Linked DNA regions of Homo sapiens. The protein of the gene in region 4 purifies or fractionates together with the protein of the main gene of each other region. This does not show direct contact. Each region holds a gene or a part of one and is shown on either strand. Other genes may lie near its edges.

The links.
Region 1: the proteins of ADAT3 (region 4) and ABLIM1 purify together in Homo sapiens (affinity purification with mass spectrometry; one large-scale study listed by BioGRID and IntAct). This does not show direct contact.
Region 2: the proteins of ADAT3 (region 4) and POTEI purify together in Homo sapiens (affinity purification with mass spectrometry; one large-scale study listed by BioGRID and IntAct). This does not show direct contact.
Region 3: the proteins of ADAT3 (region 4) and TBC1D24 purify together in Homo sapiens (affinity purification with mass spectrometry; one large-scale study listed by BioGRID and IntAct). This does not show direct contact.
Region 5: the proteins of ADAT3 (region 4) and USP47 purify together in Homo sapiens (affinity purification with mass spectrometry; one large-scale study listed by BioGRID and IntAct). This does not show direct contact.

What each region holds. Positions count from the first base shown.
Region 1 is NC_000010.11:114,646,905-114,653,039, forward strand, and holds part of ABLIM1 (actin-binding LIM protein 1), read right to left. Parts: intron 1-6,135. UniProt on the Homo sapiens protein: May act as scaffold protein. May play a role in the development of the retina. Has been suggested to play a role in axon guidance.
Region 2 is NC_000002.12:130,504,978-130,511,625, forward strand, and holds the start of POTEI (POTE ankyrin domain family member I), read right to left. Parts: upstream 4,352-6,648; 5' UTR 4,259-4,351; coding exon 3,738-4,258; intron 1-3,737.
Region 3 is NC_000016.10:2,490,614-2,496,748, reverse strand, and holds part of TBC1D24 (TBC1 domain family member 24), read right to left. Parts: intron 716-6,135; 5' UTR 601-715; coding exon 1-600. UniProt on the Homo sapiens protein: May act as a GTPase-activating protein for Rab family protein(s). Involved in neuronal projections development, probably through a negative modulation of ARF6 function. Involved in the regulation of synaptic vesicle trafficking.
Region 4 is NC_000019.10:1,908,903-1,914,066, reverse strand, and holds the end of ADAT3 (probable inactive tRNA-specific adenosine deaminase-like protein 3), read right to left. Parts: intron 2,178-5,164; 5' UTR 2,020-2,177; coding exon 916-2,019; 3' UTR 620-915; downstream 1-619.
Region 5 is NC_000011.10:11,935,142-11,941,276, forward strand, and holds part of USP47 (ubiquitin carboxyl-terminal hydrolase 47), read left to right. Parts: intron 1-1,161; coding exon 1,162-1,369; intron 1,370-3,115; coding exon 3,116-3,231; intron 3,232-5,287; coding exon 5,288-5,407; intron 5,408-6,135. UniProt on the Homo sapiens protein: Ubiquitin-specific protease that specifically deubiquitinates monoubiquitinated DNA polymerase beta (POLB), stabilizing POLB thereby playing a role in base-excision repair (BER). Acts as a regulator of cell growth and genome integrity.

The DNA.
Region 1 (6,135 bases), on a different chromosome or scaffold from region 4:
TCACTTAGTATTCCCATCATGGATAGCACTGGACCAATTGGTGACCTCAAAGATTAGACAGTTTTTTAAATTAATTAATAAATTAATTAATATTTATTTATTTATTTTTGAGACAGGGTCTCACTCTGTCACCCAGGCTGGAGTGCAGTGGCACGATCTTGGCTCACTGCAACCCCTGCCTCCTGGGTTCAAGCAATTATTGTGCCTCAGCCTCCCAAGTAGTTGGGATTACAGGTGTGTACCACCATGCCCAGCTCATTTTTTTGTATTTTTAGCAGGGACAGGGTTTCACCATGTTGGGCCAGACTGGTCTTGAACTGCTGACCTCAGGTGATCCGCCTGCCTCGGCCTCCCAAAGTACTGAGATTACAGGCGTGAGCCACCGTGCCCAGCCTAGGCAGTTATTAAGTAGCCACTGCCCCTATAATGCCACTGGCTACCAAGTGAAGATAGAGTCTGTGCCCTTTAGGGAAAAGAGCCCAAGGAAAGGATAACAGAACATATCCAGCTACACACTAGAATCACATGATAGCACTTCAGGGAAAAGACCAATATGAAACAGAACTGGGAATTGTCCCACAAGGACAGCAAATATTAAACACCCCAGAATATTCTAGTGATGTCAAAAATGACCTTACAAAATGATCCAGGTCATGATGGACAGAAAGGGAGCTGGCTGAGCGCTAGCTGTGGCCCTAGCTATTTGACTTTTCTTCCCCAGCTCATCTTTATCCCAGGAGATCCTACTCTATGGCATGAGAATTCTCCCTCTCCACTTGGGCTGCAGACAAACCTTTGTGAGCTAGATTTTTCTGGGCTCTGTGAGTCATAATGTCTCTGATGTCCTCTGATTAATTTTGGTTGTTATCTATGGCCACAGAACTTGGATGAGGAAAGACTTCTAAACAGCAAACAAACAAAACTTGGGGGGCCACAGTAAGTCACTTACAGAAAGTGAATTTACAAGCCAGCTAAATGATTTCTCAAAGTAAAGGCCCTACCTTTCTTTATATAATGTTTGCAGACCTTTATGTTGTAAAGATAAAAGCAGTTTTGAAGATTAAGATATAGGATGTAAATAGAATGTACATATAGGATTTGTGTACATATGGGAAAACTGGTTATTTCACTTTGAGGGAATAGCTTTAATTTAATTTGAAATTGTATTAAGTGGTGGGAATGTAAAATGGTATAGCCACTGTAGAAAACGGTTTGACAGTTTCTCAAAAAGTTAAACAGAGAATTATCGTATGACCCAGGATTTCCACTCCTCGGTATATACCCAAGGGGACTGAAAACACGTTCACACAAAAACATGTAACAAGTGTTCATAGCAGCATTATTCATAATAGCCAGAAAGCAGGAACAACACAAATGACCATCGGCTGACGAAAAGATAAAGAAAATGTGATATATCCCTACAATGGGATACTATTCAGCCATAAGAAGGAATACGGTATTGATAAATGCTACCGCCTCGATGAGCCTTAAAAACATTATACTAAGTAAAAGAAGCTAGACACAAAAATCACAGGTTACATGATTCCAATCAGATGAAATGTCTGGAATAGGAAAACCCACAAACACCTAAAGGAGATAAGTCGTTGCCAGCAGCTGAGGAATGTGAGTCATCAGGGATGTTTTCTAACGGGCACAAGGTTTCTTTCTGGGCTGATAAAAATGCTCTGGAATTAGATAGTGGGATGGTTGCACAACTTCGTGGTTCTACTAAAATGCACAGGCTCGTAAATGTTAAAGTGGTGAATGTTATGGTGTACTACATTACATCTCCATTTTAAAATGTATGAAGTACCTTTACTTACCAAGCACTGCGTTATAGTCTGAAGAAACCACGGAAACAACTGTCCTGCCACTAAGGCACTTACTACCTGGTAGGGAGACACGCAAACAAACAGATACAAATAGCCAAGCATAGAGGTGCTTGGATGGGCATTTGTGTGGTACACAGCAGAGCCCAAAAGAGGAGAGGTCTGGAGAGACTCCACAGGAAAGTTTCACCCGAGCTGAATCTCCAACTGAACTTAAAAAAAAAAATTAATAATCCTTTGGTCTTCTCATGTAATATCAAACAGGGAGAGAGGAGAGCTAGGGTCTTAATCTAACACTACCCTCTGATTATACCATAGACCTTAGGAAAGTCATTTACTTCTCTGGACCTCAGTCTCTTACTTCCTACAAAAGTAAGGTGTTGGCTGGGCACGGTGGCTCACACCTATAACCCCAGTGCTTTGGGAGGCCGAGGCGGGCAGGTCATTTGAGGTCAGGAGTTCAAGACCAGCTTTGGCCAACATGGTGAAACCCCATCTCTACTAAAAATACAAAAATATTAGCCAGGCATGGTGGTGCATGCCTGTAATCCTAGCCACCCAGAAGGCGGAGGCACAGAGAATCGCTGGAACCCGGGAGGCAGAGGCTGCAGTGAGCCAAGATCACACCAGTGTGCTCCAGCCTGGGTGACAGAGCAAGACTCTGTCAAAATAAATAAATAAATAAATAAATAAATAAATAAATAAATAAATAAATAAATAAAGGTGTTGATATCAAAGGTTTATTTCTACCTTTGAGAAATATCTAGAATCCTCGTGCATATCATATCATAGTCTATCTAAAATCCTGACATACTTAAATCCTGATTCTGCAAAGGGTTTCTCTAGTGTATTCTGGGTGTGCTGCTTTCTGAGATTGAGAAAGGAATCTTCCTGCTGGCTACCTCTACACGCCCTAACAAACAGCACACAGACTATGCTTCCTTCCTGTTGGCAGCCTTCATCTTCCACCCCAGGGACAGAATCACCCATCTGCTGACCACGTATTCACCTTATATTACCTTCCTACTGGTAGCCTTCGTCTTGTAGTCCATAGACAAATCAAGCCTGTGCTGGCCACCTGTCCACCCCAATGAGTAACACACAATCCATATCCCCCCTCTTTTTTTTCTTTTTTTTTTTGAGACAAAGTCTCACTTTGTTGTCCAGGCTGGAGTGCAGTAGTGCTATCTCGGCTCACTGCAACCTCTGCCTCCCAGGTTCAAGCAATTTCCCAGCCTCAGCCTCCTGAGTAGCTGGGACTACAGGCGCCCACCACCATGCCAGGCTAATTTTTGTATTTTTTAGTAGAGACGGGGTTTCACTATGTTGGCCAGGCTGGTCTCGACCTCCTGACCTCGTGATTCACCCATCTCGGCCTCCCAAAGTGCTGGGATTACAGGCGTGAGCCACTGTGCCCAGCCTCCACACAATCCATATTCCCTTTCTGTTAGCAGCTTTGTCTTGTACCCATGGCCGTCACAGGTCCATGGCTGATTTGCCAAGTTAACAGGAGTCCATCCATAATAATCAGCACTGGGTCATGCCCCAGAATCATTAGGATCAAAGGATGGGAAATCAGGGATTTCTTTGAAAGTAAGCCACTCTTAGTAAGATTCAAATTTGTTTAAAGCCTGGATTAAAACAATGCCAAACAATAAACTTAAACAGACTGCTTTACCCTCTGACTTTAAATAAGATTAGTTTTTAAGTACATTTAATTAAAACGAATGGGGCATTGCAGCATATTTACTCACTCAAGGAAGTAATTTACATGGGAACATTTCATGTGAAAATAGTTACTTGCCCACATTCCTAGGACTAAAAATAAAATAAACAAAACAAAAAGCAACCATCAATAAAACAAAAAAAAAGCTGGACCAAGTAGATTCAGCCAGTGGAACTAGGTGAAAAGTGTCTTACTTCTACCTTTTTCTTTCCACTCTCAGATCATTGGGCTATTTTCCTTTTACTCGTATTTTGGGTAAATCATATCTATTTTACAGCTCAAATCGCAAATCCTACTTTCTCTTTCCCTTCAGTGATATTTCTTTCCTTTGAAAACTAATTGTATTTGTTATCTAGACAATTATTCAACTTCTCACACATTTGGGTGAGAAGAAGAGGGGGAAGTATTTATCGAGCTCCAACTAAATGCCAGCATTTCTAAAATACGTATTTTCTCTTAGGGCTCATAATACCGCTGCAATGTGGGTAGTATTATCCACATTTTATATACGAGAAAACTAAGGCTCGGACATATTAAGTCACTTGCCCAGGTCACAGAACTGCAAAGAGCAGAGCTGGACTTTGAACTTGGCAGCGAGGTCTGACCCCATAACCCTGAATTTGCAACCAGTTTGCTTTGCAGCTTCTCCTGGCCTCAGCTACTTGAAGGCAGGGGGACAATTTAATGCCGAATTGTATTCTTCGAACATAGTGATTTGATTTCTGCGAACATTCACTCATTCATTTACTCATCACTCACAGCTTTTTTTCCATGCCAGGTACTATAATGGAATAAAAATAAGAGCACAGCTCTCTCCTTGCCCTCAGAGAGGACCTCAGTGTATGAAAAGGGAGAAGCTTATAAACAGGCAACTTGAACAAAGATGTGCAGAGGATGCTATGAAAACACAGAGGAGGACGAGGCAAGAGGTAAGATCAGGCCGGCCCAGAGGAGGAAAAGCTTAACCTGCAGCCTGCTGGGCCTCAGAGAAACTGGGGAGACTGTGCCAGGCAGCAGAATTGCACATACAAAGAGAGGCCCAACGTGAAAGCATCCTTCAAACATCTGTGACAAAGAAGACTGATGCGGGTGTTTGGGGGTTAAGAGTGGGACGTGATAGAAAGGCTTAACCGTCAAGAGCTTGAAACGTATGATTCTGGGAAATATGATTAAACTAATGGAATGAGAAGCCTAGGGAATTGAAAAGGGGTTATTGGTAACTATAAATAAAAAAAAAATGCAAACTATCTAATGCTTTCCCAAATAGCTGAAACCTCAAATCCCTCTCCATTCATGCCCTTGCAAGATGTAGAAGTAACTGGCCACCACCTATCATCTCCATCCTCAGGAGAACAAAAGTTAAAGTAAGACTGCTGTTTGGGGGGAACCATATCCCATCAACAAACCGGATGAGGCCCTGGGGACCCAGCATGCTGGAGGAACAGGAGGCCACAACACAGTGTGTCTCCTTGCCAGCAGCAGATGCCGGTCACTACTTTGCCTCTCAAAGTAGCCTAGTCAAAGCCATCAGTCAGGAGAGCGGGTCTGAGGGCAGGAACCACATGCTGGTCCTTCTTACCAACTTTCCCAGGATGTATTTTTTATGGCTAGCTCAAACACTTCTCTCAAATGTAATAGAGGGCCTTCACAGCTGAGTTTCAGGGTTTGGAGAGAATTAAAACCTTTTCCCTGACACAGACTCTCAATGTTACCAGGAAGATGCTATAGAAAAGCTCCACAGCATCTTGAAGAATATGCTGTCTTTTTGACAACAAAGCCATTTGTGGCCTATGGCCTACTATACCCAAGACGCTTCCCCTAGCCCTCTGACATACAGGTCTGGGGTTGCGGATTAGTGAATGGGGTAAGAAGGGCACACTAAAAGAAAAATATTATAGTGTTATATGTTCTACTTAGTTTGAAAACAGGTTGGTATTGCTTTAAGAAACAATAATGTACCCAAGAGGTTCTCTCACTTACGTGATACCCTGAGTATCTGGGTCTTGGGAAACCATTCCGAGTGAAGACAACACCTGGTGTGCTGCATGTAACAGAAAGGTCTCAGCAGGTGCCTGAATCAGACATGAACCACCTTTCTCTCTTCTGGGATATGAACTGCTTTTCCAGGGAGGGGACTGCCAAGTCTACTTTGGTCCCTGCTCTCCAGTCCAGAACATTCTGCTTTGGGATTTGGACTCAGCTGACAACATAATCACTGAATCCTCTCCAGATATCCTTGGGGCTTTTGATAATAGTGCCAGTCTCTTGTTTGTTTGTCAAGAAGGTAATCGCCCTAAATATGTTCTTTCGTTTGTATGAGACCCAAAAGCTCCAAAGGACAGAAAGAAACACAGGTTCAAAAACTTCACTCTAATTTCCTACAGGAGAGTAAGGGAACATTCCATACAGACAGCTTGTATTTACGAGCTAGAGGAAGGAAATCTTTGCTAATTTTCCTGGCAACAGCAATATACTTTATGGGAGTCTTCAAATTTGAGTTGCTGAAGTACGTAATTAGCAATATTATTTACAAACTTTAGGTGTGCCAGTGTTCAGCGTACCTCATGAATGACCCACTCT
Region 2 (6,648 bases), on a different chromosome or scaffold from region 4:
CCAAGGGTGTTGGTTGTACAGATTATTTCATTACCCAGGTGTTAAGCCCAGTACCTGTTCATTCTATTTCCTGCTTCTTTCCCTCTTCCCACCCTCCACCCTCTGATAGGCCCCAGTGTGTGTTCCTTCCCTCTAGGTATCTGTGTGTTCTCATCATTTAGCTCCCACCTGTAATTGAGAACGTGCTGTATTTGGTTTTCTCTTCCTATGTTAGTTTGCTAAGGATAATGGCTTTCAACACCATCCATGTCCCTGCAAAGGACATGCTCTCGTTCCTTCTTTTATGGCTGCATATTATTCCATGCTGTTTATGTACCACATTTTAGTTCTTAAAACAACTAAAACAGTCTTTTCCCCAAGACATAAATTTTCAAAAGGGCAGTTAAAGGTTATCTATTACTATTTTCTACCTCCAGAAATGCTTTTGTTTGAAAGGAGGGAGGAAAAGCTTCAATTGAGATTAAGTCCTAATGCCCCAATTTTAAATCTCTCAGCTTGCTCAAGCCCAGCAGGAAAACATGTAGTTTTCAAAGACGGAAGGATCCTGAGAGATAGTAGAATATGCCTGCCACATAATAGGTGTCTGGCTTATGTCTGATGACTAAATGGATAGGAAAAATGGATGAACACAGCTTGGGAGTTCAATATTTTTAAAGAAAACTCCTATAGAGTAGCGCAATACATTTGCAATAGCAATAATCATTTATATTTGCTATTTTAATTTTCATAAATATATAACTCAACTAAAATGATTAATTCATACTTTTTACATGTTAATCTATATATAATGAAAAGATAATTATGGAATAAAATGTATATATAATAAAATCTACAGGAACAGGTAAACACGACCCCTCTTCTTCTGAAGAGGGTAAAAGTTCACAGAAAATAGCCAACCACAGAAATAAAAATAAATAATAGAATGTGAGGAATTATTTGCATCTATGCAAGAAGCATATTCCTTCTCTTCCCAAGGATTATTGCATTAGTAATGAACCTTAACTACAACTTCAGATGTTCATTGCAGAAATCACAGATAAGAGAAAGGGAAAAACTTCACTTACAAATCCCCAGAAACAAGTTTGATTATATTTTCTACAGATTTGCAGCTAACACGAGCAGATTCTGTTCGTGTATATGTGTAACAAACTGATTTTTTTCTCACTTGATATAGCAAAGTACATCTTTGCACGTCGACATATCTCTGTATCTACTGACACCCTCAATAGTTACATATTATTCCATCCTATGGATGCACTGAAATTTGTTCATAAAATCTTTATATGGGTTCTTCTAAATACACTGCTATTTTAAGCAATACTAAGAAAAACACATCTATTTCGTAAAGATATTTCAGTATAATGGAATTGATAAGTAAAAAGCATACACATTTTTAAAATGTAGTTCTTACCACTAAAGTGTCTGTTTGAAAAGCTGCAGCAACTTAAACTTTAAACAACTACATAAGTACCACTGTTCTTCATCCTCACAAACTTTGTGGATGGAAAACAGTATTTCATTCCTTTTTTTTTTTTTTTCTTTTTTTTTTGAGATGGAGTCTCACTCTATCACCCAGGCTGGAATGTAGTGGCGCGATCTCGGCTCACTGCAACCTCCACCTCCCTGGTTCAAGCAATTCTCTTGCTTCAGCCTCCTGAGTAGCTGGGATTACAGGTGCGTGCCACCATGCCCAGCTAATTTTTTGTATTTTTAGTAGAGATGGGATTTCACCACACTGGCCAGGCTGGTCTCAAACTCCTGACTTCATGATCCACCGCCTCAGCCTCCTAAAGTGCTGGGATAACAGGCGTAAGCCACTGCACCCGGCCTTTCATTCCTCTTCTAACTTAAATAGAAAGCAGTATTTCATTCCTCTTCTAACTTAAATTCCTTCTTCTACCAGGAACACTGTATTTTCCTATGTGCATAGGTCACTGGTAGATATGCAAAAAAAGTACTTTGCCCAATTTTAAAATGAGCTTATTTTATTATGTCTGCATATATACACCAGGCACGGTGGCTCACGCCTGTAACCCCAGCACTTGGGGAGGCCAAGGTGGGTGGATCACGAGGACAGGAGTTCAAGACCTGCCTGGCCAAGATGGTGAAACCCCATCTCTAGTAAAAATACAAAACAATTAGCCAGGCATGGTGGCAGGCGCCTGTAATCCCAGCTACTCAGTAGGCTGAAGCAGAGAATTGCTTGAACCTAGGAGGCAGAGGTTGCAGTGAGCCGAGATCACACCACTGCACTCCAGCTTGGGCTACAGAGTGAGACTCCACCAAAAAAAAAAGGATATATATATATATATATATATATATATATATATATATATATATACACACACACACACACACACATATATATGTATATATATACACACACATATATATGTATATATACATATGTATATATATGTATATATGTGTATATATATGTATATATATATATATCTGCGTATATAAATAGGCATTTATATTTTTTCTGGTATGTTTCTCCTTTTGTATGTTTAAAATTTTTAATCTATACTCTTATTTTTGTGACATAAAAATCTAGCTAGTTTTCTCCAAAAATGAATTATGAACAATCCATCTTTTTTAAATAATACAAAACATCACCATTATCAAGTGCTAAATTCTTACATATATTTGGGTATTTCTAAATTTCCTATTCTGTTCTATTCATTGATGTCTTTTCAGCTGTTAGTAAACAATTTGTGGAAATAAATAACACATGCACATTTTGATATCTGGAAAAGCAAGCCTTTTTCCATTCTGTTACAAAAAATTAATTTATCACAATAATAAAAGACAGCATGTGTAATTTAAAAACGCTAAAACTTTGCTATTTTTATTTGGCTTATGTAAAAGTGATAAATAGAAAAAGCTCACATCTTTTTTTTTTTTTTTTTTTTTGAGACGGAATCTCGCTCTGTCTCCCAGGCTGGAGTGCGGTGGCACTATCTTGGCTCACTGCAAGCTCCGCCTCCCGAGTTCACGCCATTCTCCTGCCTCAGCCTCCTGAGTAGCTGGGACTACAGGCACCTGCCACCGTGCCCGGCTAATTTTTTTTATAATTTTTAGTAGAGACAGGGTTTCACCGTGTTAGCCAGGATGGTCTCGATCTCCTGACCTCGTGATCCGCCCGCCTCCCCAAAGTGCTGGGATTACAGGCATGAGCCACCGCGCCCAGCCAAAAAGCTCACATCTTAAGAAAATTCAATCTTCCTATTCAAGCACAGGAACCATCTTCCCATTTCAGTTTCCTTCTAAGGTTCCTCAGTAAAGAACGTATTTACATAGGGTACATTGATATAAAATCCATACTGGATTTTATTTGAAGAATATTTAGCCCTGAAGTTGATGTGTTATGGGGCTTCATTCTTAGTTCTCAATATACACTTTTCTATAATGTATAGAACATTGTTTTAAAATCTGTAGATTAAAAATAATCTGCTGCATTGACTTAATTAATTTTGCAAGTTAAATCACTTTAAAACAGTCTATTAGTGTTCTACGAGGGAAATTATAATTTGATTGGAAATCAGCTAAAGTTTTTTTTGTGTGTGTTGCTGTTCATAAAGGGGCCTGTGCCCTGACCTCTCTGAGGTTTCCACAACCAGGGTGCTGTGAGGCCTGCGGAGGTGAGAAAGCCAGGTCCCCCTCCTCCCCCGCCAGGAGGGTATGTCCCCATCATCCCCCGACCTCCCACCTCCTCCCAGCCCAGGCCTGGTTACCTCTTTTGCTTGTCCTGCTTGTTCACGTCAGTGTCCCTGAGCATGACGATCAGATCCTTTCTGGCGACTTTACCCCACCAGGCAGCTCTGTGGAGCTTGTCCAGATCTTCTCGACGGACGTGGTATCTCGGCTCCACGAAGGCGCTGTCGTCGTAGTCTCCCCAAGCACCCACGTTGCTCTTGCCGCTCCCCCTGCAGCAGGGGAAGCAGTGGCAGCACCACTTGCCCATCTTGCTCCTGAGCGTCTTCATAGCGGAGTCGTCGTGGTCTCCAGAAGTGCCCACGTTGCTCTTGCCACTCCCCCTGCAGCAGGGGAAGCAGTGGCAGCACCACTTGCCCATCTTGCTCCTGAGTGTCTTCATAGTGGAGTCGTCCTGGTCTCCAGAAGTGCCCACGTTGCTCTTGCCGCTCCCCCTGCAGCAGGGGAAGCAGTGGCGGCACCACTTGCCCATCTTGCTCCTGAGAACAAATGGCTTCTTCACAGAAGAGGCAGCCGGCATTGAATCAACCTCAGCTACCATCTGCTTTTAACAGCCTGGGGAGGCCGGTAGTAGCGAGCAGATCACGTCTACCAACCAGTTTCACCAACTAGCAGGTAACTCCGGGTTTCCAATCTGTTTGAAGAGAAAAGTCAATCCCAGCCAAAACCTGCCAACCCCAGCAGGTAAGCCCAACCCACCCCACCCAGGGAAAACCCACACCCACCCGGGGAAAGCCCACGCCCACCCGAGGAAGGGCCAACCCCCCCCCCCAAGAAAACACCCAGCCCACCCAAGGGAATGCCAAACCCAGCAGAGAAAAGGTCAAGCCTAGCAAGGGAACGCGAGAGAGGAAACGCCAATCCAAGGAGGAAACGTCAATCCAAGGAGGAACACCAGGCCAAGCGACCAACACCAAGCCAAGCAAAGAACGCAAAGCCAAGCCAAGCCGCTACAGGCCAGCCAAGCAGTTACCCGCGTGCAGCATGCGCGTGCAAGCCGTTACAGGCCAGCCAAGCCATTACGCGCGTGCGGCGTGCGCGTGCAAGCCGTTACAGGCCAGCCAAACCGCTATGCGCGTGTGGCGTGCGCGTGCAAGCCATTACAAGCCAGCCAAGCCGCTGCCGCGTGCGCGTGCGGCGTGCGCGTGCGGCGTGCAGCGTGTGCATCTCAGGTGGCGTCAGTGCATGTGGCACAGACAGTGGCCAATGCGTGCAACCGCGTGTTTAAATCTTGGCGCCACGAATGTCACCGACAGCCTTATGTTCCTGGCAAACTTCATGGGACTCAGCTGAGCTTTCAGGCCATTGAGAAGCCTCTGGTGAAAAAAAAGCCTCTTGAAGCAGGACTGGGGCTAAGCGGCTGGAACTTGAGGATGCTGACAGCCTCCTCTGAAGAAAGCCCCCAGGACACTCCTGGCGGTGCTGTTGTGCGTGGCAGCGTCTGCAGCTCGGAGCTGGGGCTGGAGGAGCTGGCTGCAAATGGCCTCAAAATCCCGGAGCACAAGATGCCCACTGAGCCCAGCGCCTGCCTGAGGTGCCTTTGACACCTGGTCCTCTTTGCTCTGCACCCAGAACACGAGGCCATCAGCGAGGGGGCATTTGGGGCCACAGGATCGCGGCCAGCTCCTGCCCCGGTGCCCCCTGCCCGGTGTCCAAGCCAGGGCCAACAGCTATAGGGCTTCTGGCCTGGGGGGCTCTGCTCCACTGGCATGCAATAGGGTCAAGGTGCAGACCGCTGTGTCCACGCCGGCAAGAGGGGGCTTGGAGGAGCAGTCACAGGACAGTACTCTCCCCTCCTGTGGATGACTCCTTCCTGCCCTTTCCTCTCTCTGCTAAAGCCTCCAACGTTCTCTGTCCCATCCATATGCTCCACTTATGCCCCTGCTTTTGCTTTGATTTTCTCATTAAAATAAATCTGCAGGCTGGCTGGGTGCAGTGGCTCATGCCTGTAATCCCAGCACTTTGGGAGACCGAGGCAGGTGGATCACCTGAGGTCGGGAGTTCGAGACCAGCCTGACCAACATGGAGAAACCTTGTCTCTACTAAAAATACAAAATTAGCCAGGCGTGGTGGTGCACGCCTGTAATCCCAGCTACTTGGGAGGCTGAGGCAGGAGAATCGCTTGATCCCGAGAGGCGGAGGTTGCGGTGAGCCAAGATACTGCCATTGCACTCCAGCCTGGGCAACAAGAGCAAAAGTCCATCTCATAAATAAATAAATAAATAAATAAATAAATAAATAAATAAATAAATAAAATAGATCTGCAGGCTGCCCCCTCACGGCAACGTGTCTTCCCTGCATTACTGCAGAAGGATGGCCACACCCCTGCCCTGGCGGACTAGACCTCTTAAGGACACCTCTGCCTTCCACCTCACTCCTGAATCACCCACTTCTTCCTCTCTAGTCAGTTGGACAAACGTGCTTTTTCCTGGCCCATCTTTAAAACATCCTCTTCATGCTTCGCTCTCCAGCTGCATCCCATTTCTCTGTTCCCCTGTAGAGCAAAATGGCTCCAAAGCGTGGTCTCGTCTTACCTTGAACACCCCTCCTCCCTCTCGCTATGTGAGCTACTCCAGTTCAGCTCTCCACCTCTGCACTACCCTGAACCTGCTCCTGCCGGCAGCAATGGCCTATGGAGAAGTGCAGCCCCCAGCTGTAAGACAGGGGGCCTCCCTCCCTGCTGCTCCTCAGCACCCCCTGCACGTGGCTTCCTGGACCACTCCTCTCCCGCTCCAAGGCCCCTCCTCCGCGCACATTTCGGGACTCCTGGCTGCCCAAGGCCGCTCTTCTGTTTTCTGTCCACACCTGCTCCCTGGGGTTGCATTTATTCCCGCAGCTCCAAATGCCACCTGCCTGCTCATCGCGCCCCGCCCAGGCCTCTCCCTCGCTAGGAGCGTCTCCTCCGTTTTTCCACTTGATGCTCATAGACAC
Region 3 (6,135 bases), on a different chromosome or scaffold from region 4:
GGCCACCATCAGCTTGTGGGCCGCCTGGCAGTACTTGTTCACCAGGTCCCCAAACGTCATGCAGGACGACTCAAAGGCCAGGAAGCTCTGGTCGATCAGCCTCCTGCCGGGGTCATTGCAGGCCAGGATGCGGCAGGCCTTCTCGAAGCACTCGGCCTCGTCGATGCTGTAGTGCAGCAGCAGGGCCACCACGGCCGGCAGGGCGGGGCAGAAGGAGATGTCGGGGAACTGGTTGGCCAGGCACAGGAGGATCTTGCGCACGGCCCCCTCGCCGCGTGCATTCAGGCAGTAGCTGGGCACCTGCGTGTTGTCCACGAACTCGGGCAGCGGCAGGCAGCTGCTGCTGTGCTTGCCCACGATCTTGCCCACGATGTCGCTGTACACGCTGGCGTCAGGCGTGACCGTGCGGCAGGGAATGTCCCGGATCAGGCGCTGGTACACCTTTCCCCGCAGGGCGTGGCTTTGGGCCCAGTAGCCCTGGCGCGCCAGCTGCTTCAGTTCCTGCAGTTCAGTGCAGCTCAGCTCCTTGGGCCCCAGGTCCTGGATGGCAGCGTCCATCTTGTCTTTGTCCACGAAGCAGTTGTATCCTGGAGAGTCCATAGCGCCGCTGTGCTCGGGAGGAGGCCCTGGACTGCCGGAAGGGGAGGACAGAGTGGCTAAATCCTCCAGCCCCCTTTCTGAGGGTTTCCTGCAAACCTGTCTGCCATCTCACACCCTGCAGGATTAAAAAAACACTTTTAGCATCTGTGTTTCAAGGTTCACATTTTAAAGAACGTATTTTTTCAAATGTGGTGTAGTTTTCTTTTCTTTTGAGACAGGGTCTCGCTCTGTTGCCCAGGTTGGAGTGCGGTGCAGTGGCGTGACCCTGCTCTCTGCAGCCTTGAATGGCTTGAACCATCTTCCTGCCTCAGCCTCCTGAGTAGCTGGGACGACAGGTGTCCACCACCATGCCCAGTTAATTTTTTTTTTTGAGATGGAGTCTCACCCTGTCGCCCAGGCTGGAGTACAGTGTCACGATCTCCACTCACGGCAACCTCCTCGCCCCTGGTTCAAGCGATTCTCCAGACTCAGCCTTCTGAGTAGCTGGGACTAAAGGCATGCACCACCATGCCTGGCTAATTTTTTGTATTTTTACTAGAGACAGGGTTTCACCATGTTGGTCAGGCTGGTCTCAAACTCCTGACCTTGTGATGTGCCTGCCTTGGCCTCCCAAAGTGTGGGATTACAGACGAGAGCCACCGCCCTGGCCTAATTTTTTATTTTTTTGTAGAGACAGGGTCTCGCTATGCTCTCCAGGCTGGTCTTGAACTCCTGGGCTCAAGCAATCCTCCTGTCTTGGCCTCCCAAAATGTTGGGATTACAGGCATGAGCCACTGTGCCCGGCCTTGTTTTGTTTTGTTTGAGACAAGGTCTTGTGCTGACATCCAGGCTAGAGTGCAATGGCACCATCTCGGCACACTGCAACTTCTGCCTCCTGGGCTCAGGTGATCCTCCCACCTCAGCTATAGCTGAGACTACAGTTAGGCGCCACCACGCCCAGCTAATTTTTTCTCTTTTTAGTAGAGACGAGATTTTGCCATGTTACCCAGACTGGTCTTAAACTCCTGATCTCAAGCAATCCACCCACCACAGCCTCCCAAAGTGCTGGGATTACAAGTGTGAGCCAGTGCTCCTGGCCTGTTTTTTTGTTTATTATTATTATTATTATTTATTTTGTGTGTGTGTGTGTGTGTGTGTGTGTGTGTGATGGGGTCTTGTTCTGTCACCCAGGTTGGCCTTGAACCGCAGGCCTCAAGTGATCTTCCCACCATGCTGGAATTACGAGTGAGAGTCACGTTGCGCAGCCACATTATTTGCCTTAATCTTTGTGTAAGTATTAGAAGGGCTTCCACTTAAGATAAGTGACTTTTGAGAAGCCGTTACAAACTTTGGAGTATACCTTCTTTTCACAGAACTTATGAAGTTACTGGAATACATCACACAGATTCTGAGTAATGAGAGGCTAGAGATAGAGTTCCCAGAAGGGCTTCAAGAGCTTGGCCCTTGGCTGGGCACAGTGGCTCATATCTATAATCTCAGCTACTCAGGAGGCCAAGGTGGGAGGACTAGTTGAGGCCAGGAGTTCAAGACCAGCCTGGGCAACATGGTGAGACCCCATCTCTACCAAAAAAAGAGGCTGACCCTGCTGAAAACACCTTTCCACTCGAGCATGGTCCACTCCAGGCTCCTAAACACCACCCTGCACCCTGGGGGCCTTCTGAAAAGGAACCCCCAGTTGAGAAGATCACTTTGAGCAAAGAGATGCTTCGTTCTAGTTCTCCCTTTTTTTTTTTTTTTGAGACAGAGTCTTGCACTGTCGCACGGGCTGGAGTGCAGTGGCGTAATCTCGGCTCACTGCAACTTCCGCCTCCCGGGCTCAAGTGATTCTCCTGCCTCAGCCTCCTGAGTAGCTGGGACTACAGGCACCCGCCACCACACCCAGCCAGTTTTTGTATTTTTAGTAGAGATGGGGTTTCACCATGTTGGCCAGGCTGGTCTCGAACTCCTGATCTCGTGATCCACCCACCTCGGCCTCCCAAAGTGTTGGGATTACAGGCGTGAGCCACCACGCCCAGCCCGTTCCCAGTTCTCTTTAACCAGCTGTGTGTGCTAAGAAAGTCACAGCCTATGCTATCCCACCCTGTCGGAATTCTGAAGCCGGCTCTTAACTTTCTAAAACCACCAGCTTGAAAGCTATGCTTCAGGCAGGTGCTCCAGGGAGGAATCTCTGGTGAGGAGCAGGCATTTTCCAGAGGGAGAGCTGGGACCTAAATGGAAGGTGCTGCAGCTTTAAAACTGCACATTTCTGGATCCGAATGGGCCAGAAGTCAAGTGGGGGTGGTTGGTGTTTCTCCAAGAACAGCAACCCCTGGGCTCAGGCAAACATAAAAGGAGTGGGTAAGACGTGCCCTGTGGGATTCTGGACAACAGGTGGCTGCCCTGGCCCAAGGATACCGTCCTGCGCACAGAAGTGCAAGGTTTGCTTACGCACATCAGACTAACCTTTCCACCTGGGATGGTAGAAGTTCCCAGTGTGCCCCAGGGGTCTGCTTCAGCAGGTTTTGGTTGAGTGACCAGACCACTCCGGTTTCTCTTGCAGCTAGAACATTCACCTACCTATTATAAGGCAAATACTGCTTTAAAACAGTTCTTGAAAAGTAAAAATCATAGTGTAAAACGTACGTCTGCGAGACACTGTCTTGGGAAAACACCTCGACACGTGTTTTTGTGTGTGTGGTAAAATACACATAGCATAAAATTTACCATGTTAGGCCGGACGCGGTGGCTCACGCCTGTAATCCCAGCACTTTGGGAGGCCGAGGCGGGTGGATCACGAGGTCAGGAGATCGAGACCATCCTGGCTAACACAGTGAAACCCTGTCTCTACTAAAAATACAAAAAAACTAGCCGGGCGTGGTTGCGGGAGCCTGTAGTACCAGCTACTCGGGAGGCTGAGGCAGGAGAATGACGTGAACCTGGGAGGCGGAGATTGCAGTGAGCCGAGATTGTGCCACTGCACTCCAGCCCAGGCGACAGAGCAAGACTCTGTCTCAAACAAACAAACAAACAAACAAAAAATTTACCATTTTAGCCATTTTTTATTTATTTATTTTTTTGAGACAGAGTGCCGCACTGTCGTCCAGGCTGGAGTGCAGTGGCGTAATCTCAGCTCACTGCAACCTCCGCCTCCCTGGGTTCAAGCGATTCCCCTGCCTCAGCCTCCCAAGTAGCTGGGATTACAGGCATGTGCCACCACGCCCGGCTAATTTTGTATTTTTAGTAGAGACAGGGATTGTCCATGTTGGTCAGGCTGGTCTCGAACTCCCGACCTCAGGTGATCCGCCCGCCTCAGCCTCCCAAAGTGCTGAGATTAGAAGCGTGAGCCACCGAAGTTGATTTTAATGTATCCCACTGGAAAAACCTTGCCCACAGCAGGACTAGGCCTCAGAAGAAAAGAAACCCTTAAGACCATTGATTGGTTTGCTTCGTCCTGGGAGGGAAGGCAGTGAGGGCTCCCCCTTTCCCTGGTCCTGAAGGTCAGGCCGACAGGTCCACTCACATGCGCACAGCCACGCCTGGGTCACACTGCACAATCTTACACGTGTCGGTCGGTTATCCACAGCTTACATCCCTCCTTCCCTGCTATGGGCCCACTAGCCTCTGGAGGAACTCCAGGCCCATCCTGTTTGGGTGAAAGAACTGGCTCCTTCTTAAGGCAATAAACATGTTTCTAAACAGAACAGGAGCTGGGCAGAGCAGCACCAGCCTCCACTCGGCTGGCCCCAGATTCAGGTTGAATATTAAACTGGAAACAGTAAAAGCTGTGGGTGCACCTTGCGAAGTTCCCTTAGGGAGATGCAGATCCCAAGTTGTGTTTACTGCCGCGAATGGTCCGGCGACGTGCTGGACTCACAGGGACCCCCGAGCCAAGGATGTGTGCAAAAGACCCGAGGGAGCCCTTGGATTCTTTCTTGTTCCCCAAACCCTCACTCAAAAAGAGCGCACGACATTTCTGGGGCTGTGCACACAAGGCAACAACCCACTTAAGGCATCTATAAAAACCAGGTCCAGGCCAGCAAAGGGGCTCACATCTGTAATCCCAGCACTTTGGGAGGCTCAGGCAGGAGGATCACTTCAGCCCAGGAGTTCAAGACCAGCCTGGGCAACATAATGAGACCTCATCTCTACCAAAAATAAAAAAAAATGGCCAGGCCTGGTGGCATGCACCTGTAATCCCAGCTATTTGGGAGGCTGAACGGGGACGACCTTTGGACGCCAAGCCCAGGAGTTCAAGACTAGCCCACACAACATGGCAAAACCCCATCTCTACAAAAAAATACCAAAATTAGCCAGGCGGGCCAAGCACGGTGGCTCATGCCTGTAATCCCAGCACTTTGGGAGGCCGAGGCAGGTGGATCACAGGGTTAGGAGTTTGAGACCAGCCTGGCCAGCAGGTAAAACCCCGTCTCTACTAAAAATACAAAAAATTAGCTGGGTGTGGTGGCACATGCCTGTAGTCCCAGCTACGTGGGAGGCTGAGGCAGGAGAATCGCTTGAACCCGGCAGGCAGAGGTTGCAGTGAGCCAAGATGGAGCCACTGCACTCTAGACTGGACGACAGAGTGAGACTCCATCTCAAAAAAAAAAAAAAAAATTAGCCAGGCGTGGTGGCGCATACCTGTAGTCCCAGCTACTCAGGAGGTTAAGGTGGGAGGATCACCAGAGCCCAGGAGGTCAAGGCTGCAGTGGGACCTGATTGTACCACTGAACTCCATCCAGCCTGGGTGACAGAGCAAGACCCTGTCTGAAAAAAAAAATAAAATGAAAACAAAAATAAAAAATAAATACATAAATAAAAACGAGGTCCAGATTGGTTTCCTTAGGTTAAAAAAAAAGTCTTTCATTACGCTGGTGATATTTGAATGCAAAAATCACAAAAAGTCAAATAGTACCAAAATTAGGGAGTAAAAATGTAGAGTTCTGTTTAAATTACCTCTCTAATCCTACTCCCCTTCCACATACAGATAATCGCTATTCACATTTTGGTATATATCCTGCCAAACCTTTTTCTTGCATTCACAACTGAGTGAGGTTTTCTTTAAACTGGCAACTGAGATGAGGAGGTAAGGGGAGGTGGAAACTGATCAAAAACATAAACTATCCCAGGCTGGAGCACTTATGGGCTTGAGTGCCCACACTCTGGAGGTGAGCTTTCACGGCCGAGTGGCTTTCCCTGTTGTCTATCTGCTGGCTGGCTGCTGCTGTACATCATAAGCCGCACCTGCTCCTACGCAGCAAACAAGGCCTCCTCTGTTCCCTGCAGTCCCCCAACCCCTGACAAAGGTGCAGAGCCGGAGGCGGTGGCCGGGGAGGGAGTGAGAGGGGAGGCAGGGGCTACTGTGGAAACGGGGCAGCTTTGCAGTTAGACAGGCCTGGCCACAAAGTCCAGCTCTGCCACTTGTTTGCTTGAAATGCGGACAAGCCGTGCATCTTCCCTAACCTGCGGTTGCCATGTCTGCAGAGCGGAGCCGATAATAACACCCAACTCCTCACGGGCAACAGTTCCCAAGCAACCCCTGTGGGTTGAGCCTCACTC
Region 4 (5,164 bases):
GTGGCTCTGGCCCCATCCGGGACCCTCCAGCCCACCTCAGTCCCACCCCCAGGCACGGACTCCCCCACTGCAGGCCTGGCGGGCTCCTGGCCAGCAGTGGTGTTCTGTCCACTGCATGAGCTCCCCACGCAGAGCCCCCACCTGCCGGATCCCCTCCCCTATGGGCTGGGGGCTCACAGCAGGCGTGTCTGGAGGCAAAGCTGCACCCACATGGTCAGGCAATGGACACTTGCCGGGTGGACCCACAGGTCCTGCTCCAAGTTCTGCAAAAACGGCTCTAGTCCTCACTGTGCTGTGACCGACTAGCATCAGCCCTTTGGGGTCCCCTGTTGCCACTTGTGAAGGACACGAAATCCCAGGGCCCTTCCTTAGGGTCGGTGCCCTGTGGACTACGCCTAGTGTCCACACACTTGGGCCAGGCACGCCTGGAACCATCAGGACTCCAGAAGCGGGAAAGGAGGCAGCAGCTGGGGGCCTTGCTCTACCCCAGAATCAGCCCAGGTCTCTGACCACACGTGGCTCAGCAGGTCCCCTCCGGCTGAGCCACCAGGCCCTGTACAGACCCCACCCCACTCGGGACCCTGGCCACAAAGGCACACACCTCCTAACAGACACCCACTTGGTTTTGGGCTGTTTATTTTCCCATCAGAGCAGTTTCCCGGCCCGCGAGACAGAGGGGACACAAACGCAGCAAGGGCGGCCGCAGAAGGGCACCGCTGGCACGGGGTGGCCCCAATGACCGAGTCCAGGAAAGCTCGATCCGCACGGAAGGCAGCACCCGTGCTCCCCGCTGGAGGCGGTATGTGTCCCTGAAATCCACGGTCAGGCTTGTGCGGAAGAAATCGAGGCCCGGAAGTCCAGGAGGGGCGCCCCACGGCCGGGAGCGGGAAGGGTCCGGAGGCAGGAGGGCGGCGCCTACGTGTCGGGGTCCAGCCAGCGGCACTGCTCCTCCAGCACCCCGCGGAACACCTGGAAGCGGTGGTTGAGGTCGGGCCGTGCGTGGATGCGGAAGCGGGTGCCCAGGGCGCCGTCGGGCGAGGGCGCACCGTAGAAGACGCGCAGGATGCGTGCGTGCACCAGGGCCATGGCGCACATGGCGCAGGGCTCGCGGGTCACGTACAGGTCGTAGCCAGTGCACAGGTAGGGGAGGCCGTCCTCGTCTGCGTCCAGTTTACGCACGGCGCCTGCGCGGACGGCCTGGGGGGCAGCGGCCGGGGCGAAGGAGCAGGCGGGGAAGGGTCTGAAGTCGTAGGTGCCGCGGCCCTGGCCGCGCGCCACGAGGTCCACGCACACCATGACGGCGTGCAGGAGGGGGTTGTCCGCGCAGCTGCAGTCGTGGCCGGTGGCCAGCACGCGGTCCGAGGCCGGGTCCACTACCACGGCCCCCACGGCCCGCAAGCCCCGCGCTGCTGCCCGCCGGGCCGCCCACACCGCCCGCTCCATGTGGCTCTGCATGGCGGCGCGCTCCTGCGTGGAGAAGAGCCGCCCAGCCAGGGCGCTGGTCACCTGCTTGTCCTCGTGGAAGGACGTGGGCCAGTGGGCCCGGGCCTCCTCGAACTGGCCCCTGGTCAGAGGCGGCCGGGCGGGCACGGGCACCAGGAAGGGTTGCCCCAGGCCGCGGGGGTCCACAGCCGGCCGTGGCAGGAGCTCAGCCAGCGAGCGCGGGCCCGAGGCCGGCCCAGCCAGGCAAAGCAGCATCTCCAGGGCGTGGGGGCTGCCGGCATCGCGGCTGGGCCGCACCCGCTTGAGGTGAGGCTGGGCGGGGAGCGGGTGCAGGGCCGACACCTCCTTCAGGAGGCGTGAGGTCTGGCGCTTGTCCAGGACGGGCGCGGCGTAGGCCAGCACCAGCTCCACGTCCCCTGACTGCTTCTCGGACAGGACAGGGAGGGCCTGCCACGGCGCCGGCTCAGGCTCCGGGCTCCCGGCCTCCAAGCACTTGGGCTGCTCCACGAGGCCCGGGGCGGGCTCCATCCTCAGCGAGGCCGACTGTGGGAGACAGAGACGGGAGCAGAGGATCATCCGGCGGCTGCGGGCGGCTGGGGGAGAGCCGGGGAGTCCGTCCCGGGAGGCCGTGGCTCCACAAGGCAGGGCGTGCTGCCACCAAAGCTGAGGCTAGTCCGAGGGCTCCGGCCCAGGTCACCGCATCAGAGCTACACTCCCTCATGTCCTGCTAACCCCTGGTGTGCACAGAGTTTAAACAGCCATTGGTTTTTAAAAACGAAGATATAATTCACCTACCAGAAGACAGATCATTTTCTTTTTTTTTTATTTTATTTTTTTACTTCTGAGACGGAGTCTCGCTGTCGCCCAGGCTGGAGTACAGTGGCATGATCTCAGCTCACTGCAACCTCCGCCTCCCGGGTTCAAGCTATTCTCATGCCTCAGCCTCCAGAGTAACTGGGATTACAGGCATGCGCCACCACGCCCGACTAATTTTTGTGTATTTTTAGTAGAGATGGGATTTCACCACGTCGTTCAGGCTGGTCTCGAACTCCTAACCTCACGTGATCCACCCGCTTCAACCTGGTGGTGGGATTACAGGTGTGAGTCACTGCGCCCAGCCAAGACAGGTCATTTTCAAAAGCACAATTCATGGCTAGGTACCAGCGGCTCACGCCTGTAATCCCAGCACTATGGGAGGCCGAGGTGGGGGGATCACTTGAGCCCAGGAGTTTAAGACCAGCCTAGGCAACATAACAACACCCCATTTCTACTAAATATCAAAAAATTAGCTGGGCGTGGTGGCACACACCGGTGGTTTCAGCTACTCGAGAAGCTGAAACAGGAGGAGCACTTGAGGCCGGAAATTCAAGGCTGCAGTGAGCTACAATCGTGCCACTGTACCCCAGCCTGGCTGACAGAGCAAGATGCCATCTCAAAAAAAAAATGAAAACCCGGGCACGGTGGCTCACGCCTGTAATCCTAGCACTTTGGGAGGCCGAGGCAGGCGGATCACAAGGTCAGGAGATCAAGACCATCCTGGCTAACACGGTGAAACCCCGTCTCTACTAAAAATACAAAGAATTGGCCAGGCCTGGTGGCACGCACCTGTAGTCCCAGCTACTAGGGAGGCTGAGGCTTGCAGGAGAACCCAGAAGGTTGAACCTGGGAGGCGCAGGTTACATTGAGCCGAGATCGCGCCACTGCACTCCAGCCTGGTAACAGCGCGAGACTGTCAAAAAACAACAAAAAAGCCAGGCGTGGTGGCTTAAGCCTGTAATCCCAGCACTTTGGGAGGCTGAGGCGGGCAGATCATGAGGCCACGAGATCGAGACCAGCCTGACCAACATGGTGAAACCCCATCTCTACTAAAAATACAAAAATTAGCTGGGCATGGTGCCACGCACCTGTAATCCCAGCTACTCAGGAAGCTGAGGCAAGAGAATTGCTTGAACCTGGGAGGCAGAGGTTGCAGTGAGCCGAGATCGTGCCACTGCACTCCAGCCTGGTGACAGAGCGAGACTCTGTCTCAAAAAAAAAAAAAAAAAAAAGACACCTCAAAAACCAAAAACTATCAAGTGTCCTATTCAGTGGCTCTTAGGACACTTGGAGTTGTGCAACCATCACCACTATAAAATTCCAGAACATTCCATCACCCCTAAGAGAAAACTTGTCTCACCACCCTACAACACACACAGCAACCCAGGCAACCACTGATGTGATCTCTGCATCTCCAGAAGCCAGAGCCTGGAAGCAGAAGCGGGGACAGGCGGCGCCTGGCTTCCAGACAGAAGGGCCATGTGGCCAGGAACTGAGCAGGACCCTTGGTCCCCCGGCCGCAAGCTGCTGAATTCCGCCAACGCCTGCGTGAGTTGCAAGCAGATGCCACCCCCGTTGAGCCTCCAGATGACAACACAGCCCTGGCTGACACCTGGGTTCCAGCCCGGTGAGACCCCGCAGAGAGGAGCCAGCCATGTCACATTCAGGCCCCGACCCACAGAACCGGGAGCTGGCGGGTGTTGTATTAAGCCCACAGATGCACGGAGTCTGCTATGCAGTGACAGAAAGCAAGCATGCCAAGTGTGGGGGACACGGGGCCCCCTCCCAGAACAGCACACAGCCTGGCACTGACACGGAACACCCACCTCCAGTGGTTTCTGTAAACACTCGCCCCCTAGTCGGCCAAGGGCTAGGAAAAGAGAGACCTCAGAAGACAAGCCACGAAACGTAAGCCCCGGAGCGCAGCCCCTCCCCTGGTGGGCCCGACTTCCCATCCCTTGACCACATTCCTGCAGCTGTGGTGGGCCCTGGCTGTCGGGTGGAGCAGGCAGCCACTGGGGTGTCCCTGCTTACTCAGTCACAGAGGAGGCCCTGGCTGGAGTGGGGCTGCGGGAAGAGCTGGGATCACTCCCGGGGCTCCTGCTAACATCCCTGACTGCCGGGCAGTGTGCCAAGGCGGCTCTCGGGTGAGAACCTCCCGGCCTGACATCACCAGCACTGTTACCATCCCTGCCGCTGGCACAGGTGAGGACATCCCTGCTGCTGGCACAGGTGAAGACATCCCAGCCACTGGCACAGGTGAGGACGGGAGGCAGTAAAGCCGTTACCATCCCTGCTGCTGGCACAGGTGAGGACAGGAGATAGTAGAGCCATTACCATCCCTGCTGCTGGCACAGGTGGACATGAGGCAGTAGGGCCACTCCACTGGAGAGGAAGGGCTGGTGGGGCCCCCAGCTCTCGGGATCCGCCCATTAGAAGGGAGCCTGCCCTAGGCGGGCAGACAGCACAGCAGAGAGGCAGGCGTGGGGACAGCCAGCCTGCAGGGACTGCTCACAGGGCCCTGGGGGACAGCGCCTCTGGCTCCCACATCTCTGGCATCCACCCCACCTGAACACCCCCAAACCACAGTCTCAGCTGGCCAGCCTTCCCCCACCTGCATCTGCCCCCACAGACTCGCACCGCAGGCCTGAGGTTGGATTACAGGCGTAAGCCACCATGCCCAGCCCACATTTTTTTTTTTTTCAGACAGAGTCTCACTCTGTTGCCCAGGCTGGAGTGCAGTGGCATGATCTCAGCTCACTGCAACCTCCACTTCCCAGGTTCAAGCGATTCTCCTGCCTCAGCCCCCCTAGTAGCTGGGAATACAGGCACATGCCACCACGCCCGGCTAATTTTTGTATTTTCAGTAGAGACGGGGTTCCACCATGTTGGCCAGGCTGGTCTT
Region 5 (6,135 bases), on a different chromosome or scaffold from region 4:
ACATCTGGTCCTGCATAGCACTTATCAGTATTGAAATTTTACATTTAATTGTTTGACTATTTTAATTAATATTACTGCCCCTCACTAAACTATAAGCACATACAAGTGCAAAAACCATTCTGGTTTTGCTCACAGTTTTATTTTTAGTACTCTTCCCTGGTATATAGAATAGTCAAAATTGGTTGGGTATGTTGAATGGATAAATGAATGAACAAACATTAAGATGGATGGATGGCTCTGGATTTGCTTCATTTTGGTAAAAATTCTTTAAATATAATGGTGGACTGCAAGCATTAGTCTTGAAAATAGGAAGTAAAAGTTCGCAAATAAAAAGAAACAAACAAACAGAAAAGAGAAATAAGTCAATCTTATATGCCAAAAATAGAGCTTCATTGTTGGGGATGGGGGTTGGGGAGGAGTAGAGATCAATGGGGATACGCTGAGGCTTACAAGTCCTTCTTGAAACTCATAATCACAACCTTAAATGAACATTGAATACTTCTAAGCAATCCTACTGTGTTTCTCTAGGAGGCTTATTTCCTATCAAGAGAGTTGTTGCAACCAGGGTATGTCATCTATTGGTGACATAAGCTATAAGGAAATGTTATGATAGAAATTCCTATACCATGAGCTTTAAGTATTCTGGAGGCTAATATTGAAAGGGGATATCGTAGAAGCCAAACCCTTTGTGATGGCTTTATGAGACATGCTGTCCTCCTGTACTTAGATTGTTACTAGTTACATGAATTATCAATTCTACTCCAGATTGGATTAAGAAAACAAAAGGTGCATATTCTAGTTGGCTGTTTGGTTGTTTTCCTCTGTGTTTCCAGATTAGTTGATTATGAACAATAGTTACAATACATTGATTTTGTTTCTACACCTAAAGTTTATGATGTTAACTTTTTAAAAAATAAAAAATGTATTTAGTACATGCTTTATATGATTGGAGGGATAATGAAACATAATTATTTAAAAATAACATTTAAGTTGTGCCTGTAACTTTGATGTCTTTGATGCAAATCATAAATGTGTGGATTTTGTTAGGGCCTATTGTAATGTTATTCCCCAACAGACTAAAACACTGTGTATTTATATATGTATATATATAAATATATATGTATATATATTTTTTCTTTCTGGGGGATTACTTTCTTTTAGATGATGGATTTAGAAGAGGTAATACCCCTGGATTGCTGTCGCCTTGTTAAATATGATGAGTTTCATGATTATCTAGAACGGTCATATGAAGGAGAAGAAGATACACCAATGGGGCTTCTACTAGGTGGCGTCAAGTCAACATATATGTTTGATCTGCTGTTGGAGACGAGAAAGCCTGATCAGGTTTTCCAATCTTATAAACCTGGAGGTGAGCAATTTTACACTATTTTTAGTTGTTCTGTACTTAGAATTTTCATGAGAAAGTTTTTTTTTTTATTGTAGAAATGAACATAATTTAAATTTTGTATATGGTCTTAAAATGTAGAATAATTTTGACAGGTTGAGAAGTACTCAGCAACAGCTTGGAATTAAGTTCTAGATTACTTGCAAAGAGTTGTGTACATAATTTTAAAAACAACAAAAAACAACAAAGCTTCTAGCTTACGGTCTTCAGTGGGTTTTTTCTTCTCCAGTGGGCGGTACTGAATCATTCTGGATGCTGTCAATCCCTAAAGTTATCAATTGCTCTCTTAGGAAGATCTCTCTTTCTCTTTCTTTCTCTTTATGGAGAAGACCTTGGTCCAAAAAAGTATATTCCCATAAAGTCTCAGAAGTAGAGGCTGTTTTTCAGGTCTTCTTTGGAAGGGTGGATTCATTATCCCATCACTGTCAGCATTTACAATTTTTCGTCATCCTCTCTATTTCTACAGGTCCCAGGGACTTCATCTTTTCTTTCTTCATTAAATCTATCACATTCACTCAGCACATTGAGTTTGTTATTTTTTTTTCTTTGAGACTGCTTAGGAAAACCAAAATATCATGCCCCTAGTTTTCCCAGAGACAGTTTCCCTATAGACAGTTACATGGTCTGTTTTTGTCCAGAGTTTTCTATAATTACCATATGTAAATTGTAACAAATAGAAGAAAAGCAGAATGTTTATATAATTTTACAAAATCCATACTGTTTTGTCTTGGCCCTAACTCCTTTGCATCAGTGGTTAGTGAGAATTAGGTTCTCTGTGTTTTTTCCCTAAAAGTTGAACTTACAAAACTTTATTCTGCCCTTTTACAATAATGTTCTTCTGTGGATCCTGTATATCTCCTTTTTAAATGAAGGCCTCTGTTTACAGAGTAGGTTAGATGTAGTATTCTTTCAAGGAGTCTACGGCTCTTAAGTGGGAAAATTTTATTTCTGGAAACCTTATGATGTCTACTTCGACTTCTAAGACTCTACCCTATCTATAAAGAGTCCCTTAAGGACATTTCCTTGCTTTTTTTTTTTTTTTGCTAGACAAGAAAAAGAATGATTAGGATATAACATGAGTCAGCAGTAATACCACTTATTTGAAAGAGAACTCTAAATGCAAGTGTGGATTGTAAGACTTATAAAGTAGTCTTTATTCATTAATAATCAAGATCTTAGCAGAATATTTTGTCAAATTTAGATTAACAACGTAGGGAAAAAACTGAGGATTGACATAAAACATGAGGTTAAAACAGATACAGAATAACTGTGTATTAAGTACAATGTTTGAAGATCATTTATTTTTCAAGTGATTAAGAGTTTAATTGTAAACATAACCTTCTGAAAACAGAAGAGAATGGGATTAAATTTCAATATAAAAGATTTAAGTGAGAAAACAAAGGCATAATCAGAACAGTTTTTGTGTGGAATTTTCCTTGGGATATAGGAAATATTATTTTGAGGATAAGTCTTTGATGATGAACAAGGTGGCTTAATAAGGGGTTTGTTCAAAAGCAAGCAGGAGTGCTGTGTCACCTTTAATATTTGTTTTGCAGTAACTGGTGATTTATATTTATTCAGTGTTGTTTTCATCTGTACTTGGAAGTTTGGATTTGTCACCTGTTAGAAACACATTAAGAATGCATTACTCATGTGAAATACATTAAAAAATAACCTCCAATTCTGTGTTTATGTCTTCAAATGTGACAGAAGTGATGGTGAAAGTTCATGTTGTTGATCTAAAGGCAGAATCTGTAGCTGCTCCTATAACTGTTCGTGCTTACTTAAATCAGACAGTTACAGAATTCAAACAACTGATTTCAAAGGTAAGTTTTAAAAGGGGTCTGTAAATAAATTTTTGAGAGCCTGCTATGTACAAGACACACTATGTGACAGTTATGAATAAGATACATGCTTTACCTCCAGGAGCTAATTAATATTTGTAGTTAGGAGACAACTGTAGTTAAAAGAAACAGATTGAGTAAAGTGTGGAGGTAAGAAAGTGTAAGGCAAGTACATATAACAACTTATATGTGTTGGCTGGATTATCATAAAATACAGGATTGGAAATGTAAGTACAGTTTATTTCATGAAGAGCTTTAAACAGTAAACACGAAAGTTTGGGCTCCTTTTTGGCGTAGGCAATAAGTCGAGTTTTTGTTTTCGTCATTTTTAAGTGCGGCAATGCTGCATTTAGTGTCTGGTGACACTAGACTAGCGTTCCACATGCCTTGAGGGGAGTCAGGAATGGAGAGGAGGAAGCTGTTGAAATAATTCAAGTGCAGTTGTATGACTGGAAATGAGAGAAGGCATGGATTCCAAGAGAGATAGAATCTGTAGGACTTGTAATTGTTAAATGTTGGGGTAAAGCAGATGCACCGATGACCTGAGCCAGGGGTTTCAAACTTGGGTAACCAGAAAAGTAGGGATACATTAATAGAAATAGAGGAGGAAGGTGAGGCTGTAGACTTGACAGGGAAGGTGATGAATTAAATACTGGTGCCATTATGTGAGCTAGTGATAAAGAACATAGGCTCATTCCGATTTTTTGAGCTGGAAAAATATAACAATGAAAACATTCAAATTTTGGGGGGCAAAAGGATTAGTCCACACCAGACAAATGATTATCATCCTTACAAGGGTCCTGTACTCTGCAGAACCCTGAGCATACAAACGGCAGATTTTGCAGGGTTCTTGAACCGTAGGTTAATATTCCCTGGTGTAGTGGAAATTGTTCCATAATTACAAGTTGAGTCCAGTTTTCAGTCATTCATCTTATGGTAGTCTTGTCTTTCATCTCATTATCTGGGGTTGTAAATACCTGTTTAGCAGAGTTGTAGTGAACATTAATGAAAAATAAATAAATGCTCTGAGGAAAAAAATTGTAAGGCATTATGTAAGAGTTGGTGGTTATTATGTTCTAAAAAAAAGTCTATATTTTGACTTCTGTATATGACTTCTAACAATTTTGCTAAAGTAATAACCAAGAAACAAATCATTTTGTGAAATTATATTTTATGATTAAATTGCTTGTAAATGCATACTATGTTGGTATAATATACTGTATATTACATTTTTAAAATATGAATGACAAATGTAAAAAAAATTAGTTTAATAAGCACTCACACATAATACAAAAGAAAGAGACACAGTAGTTTCTTCCCCAAGAAGTTAATAATCTTACTGAGAAAAATATGTCTATAGAGAATAAAGGCAGTCACAAAACATCATGTAAACAAATACAGTATTTTTAACCAGCCTGCTTAAGAATTAGGTATTTATAACTGATGACCTTAGTTGCATTGAAAAGAAATTGTGTTTTTTAAATGTAAAGTATTTTTATCTGCTGCTTTCATGTCAATTTATAAAATGACTCCAAAAATTAAAGATGTGGACTTTCAGAAAAACTTAAAATTTTCCCTACTAATCTTCTCATTTTACACAAAGGAAAATTGCTTATTGCTTTAATAAAAGTATTAAAAACTATTCACAGACTATAGAAAGGCCTGTCAAAAGCCAAGAAGTTCAACATTTTGATATCAGCAGTCAAAAAGTCAGTTACGCAGTTTCTTTGGAATCAGATCACTCATTTACTTGGCAAGTTTGAGAGCAATAGAGATTCTAGGAAAAAATCCTTACCTTTAAAATAGTTTCAGAGCATACATTTATAAATGGTACTTTGTTCTCCTGATTTGCAGTATAATTTATGGCTATAAGTAATTTTTCCCTTCAATTATTCAAAAATTTTAAAACCTCTACTAAAATTATGTTTCTCTCTGCTGCTTTTAAGAAGAACTCAGCAGTGTCTTGCTTTCCCATATTTTTAAGTCAAGCAGAATTATTTTTGAAAGAGTACTTTTTATTAAATTGCTTTCATTATAGGCCATCCATTTACCTGCTGAAACAATGAGAATAGTGCTGGAACGCTGCTACAATGATTTGCGTCTTCTCAGTGTCTCCAGTAAAACCCTGAAAGCTGAAGGATTTTTTAGAAGTAACAAGGTATGTCATTTACTTTTTCATTACTATTTTCTATGCTGGTAGTAGTAAATGAAATTAGGTTCAATATTATAAGCCTGGCCTCCACAGCTGTTCAACATCTGTCTGGAACTTAATTTAAAATTCTCAACCCAGTAATTACCTTCCTTTGTAGTCAGGTCAGGTCAGGCTCCCTTCTGTCCTGTGAATCAGTCCTACTGGTTCTCCTCTTCTTTGCCTTTGTTCATGTGCACTCCCACCTGGAGTGTTCTTCCTCCTCTCCCTGCATTTTTTTTTTTTCAGTCTCCAGATTAGTCCTACCTCTTTGGTGAAGACTTCATAACCATTTCTTCCCACAGTGATTATGTCCCCTGGATTGTGTTTATTCTTGAGCTTGTCCCATAAAGCAGTGCTTCATGGTGAGGGTCAGAGGCATACCTGGTATAGAGAAAATTATAATCTTGAGTTCACCCAACATTATTCCTTTTGCCTACTTATTTTTCTCTGTTGGAAATGAGAAAGTTCATGTTAATCCTCTTCTTTTGTCTTGCTATTATTATGTGTTTGATCATTTATCATTTTTCATATGTGTTTTTATCACTCTAGTCTCATTCATCTTAGTACAGTCTAGTCTTTTATCTCATTTAACTTTTTTAGTATTTTATTACTAATATGTAATTTTTATTCACCTACACTTCTAAAACTTTTGTGTGGTGGGGGAGGGGATGTACGTGTATATGTGTGTGTATATG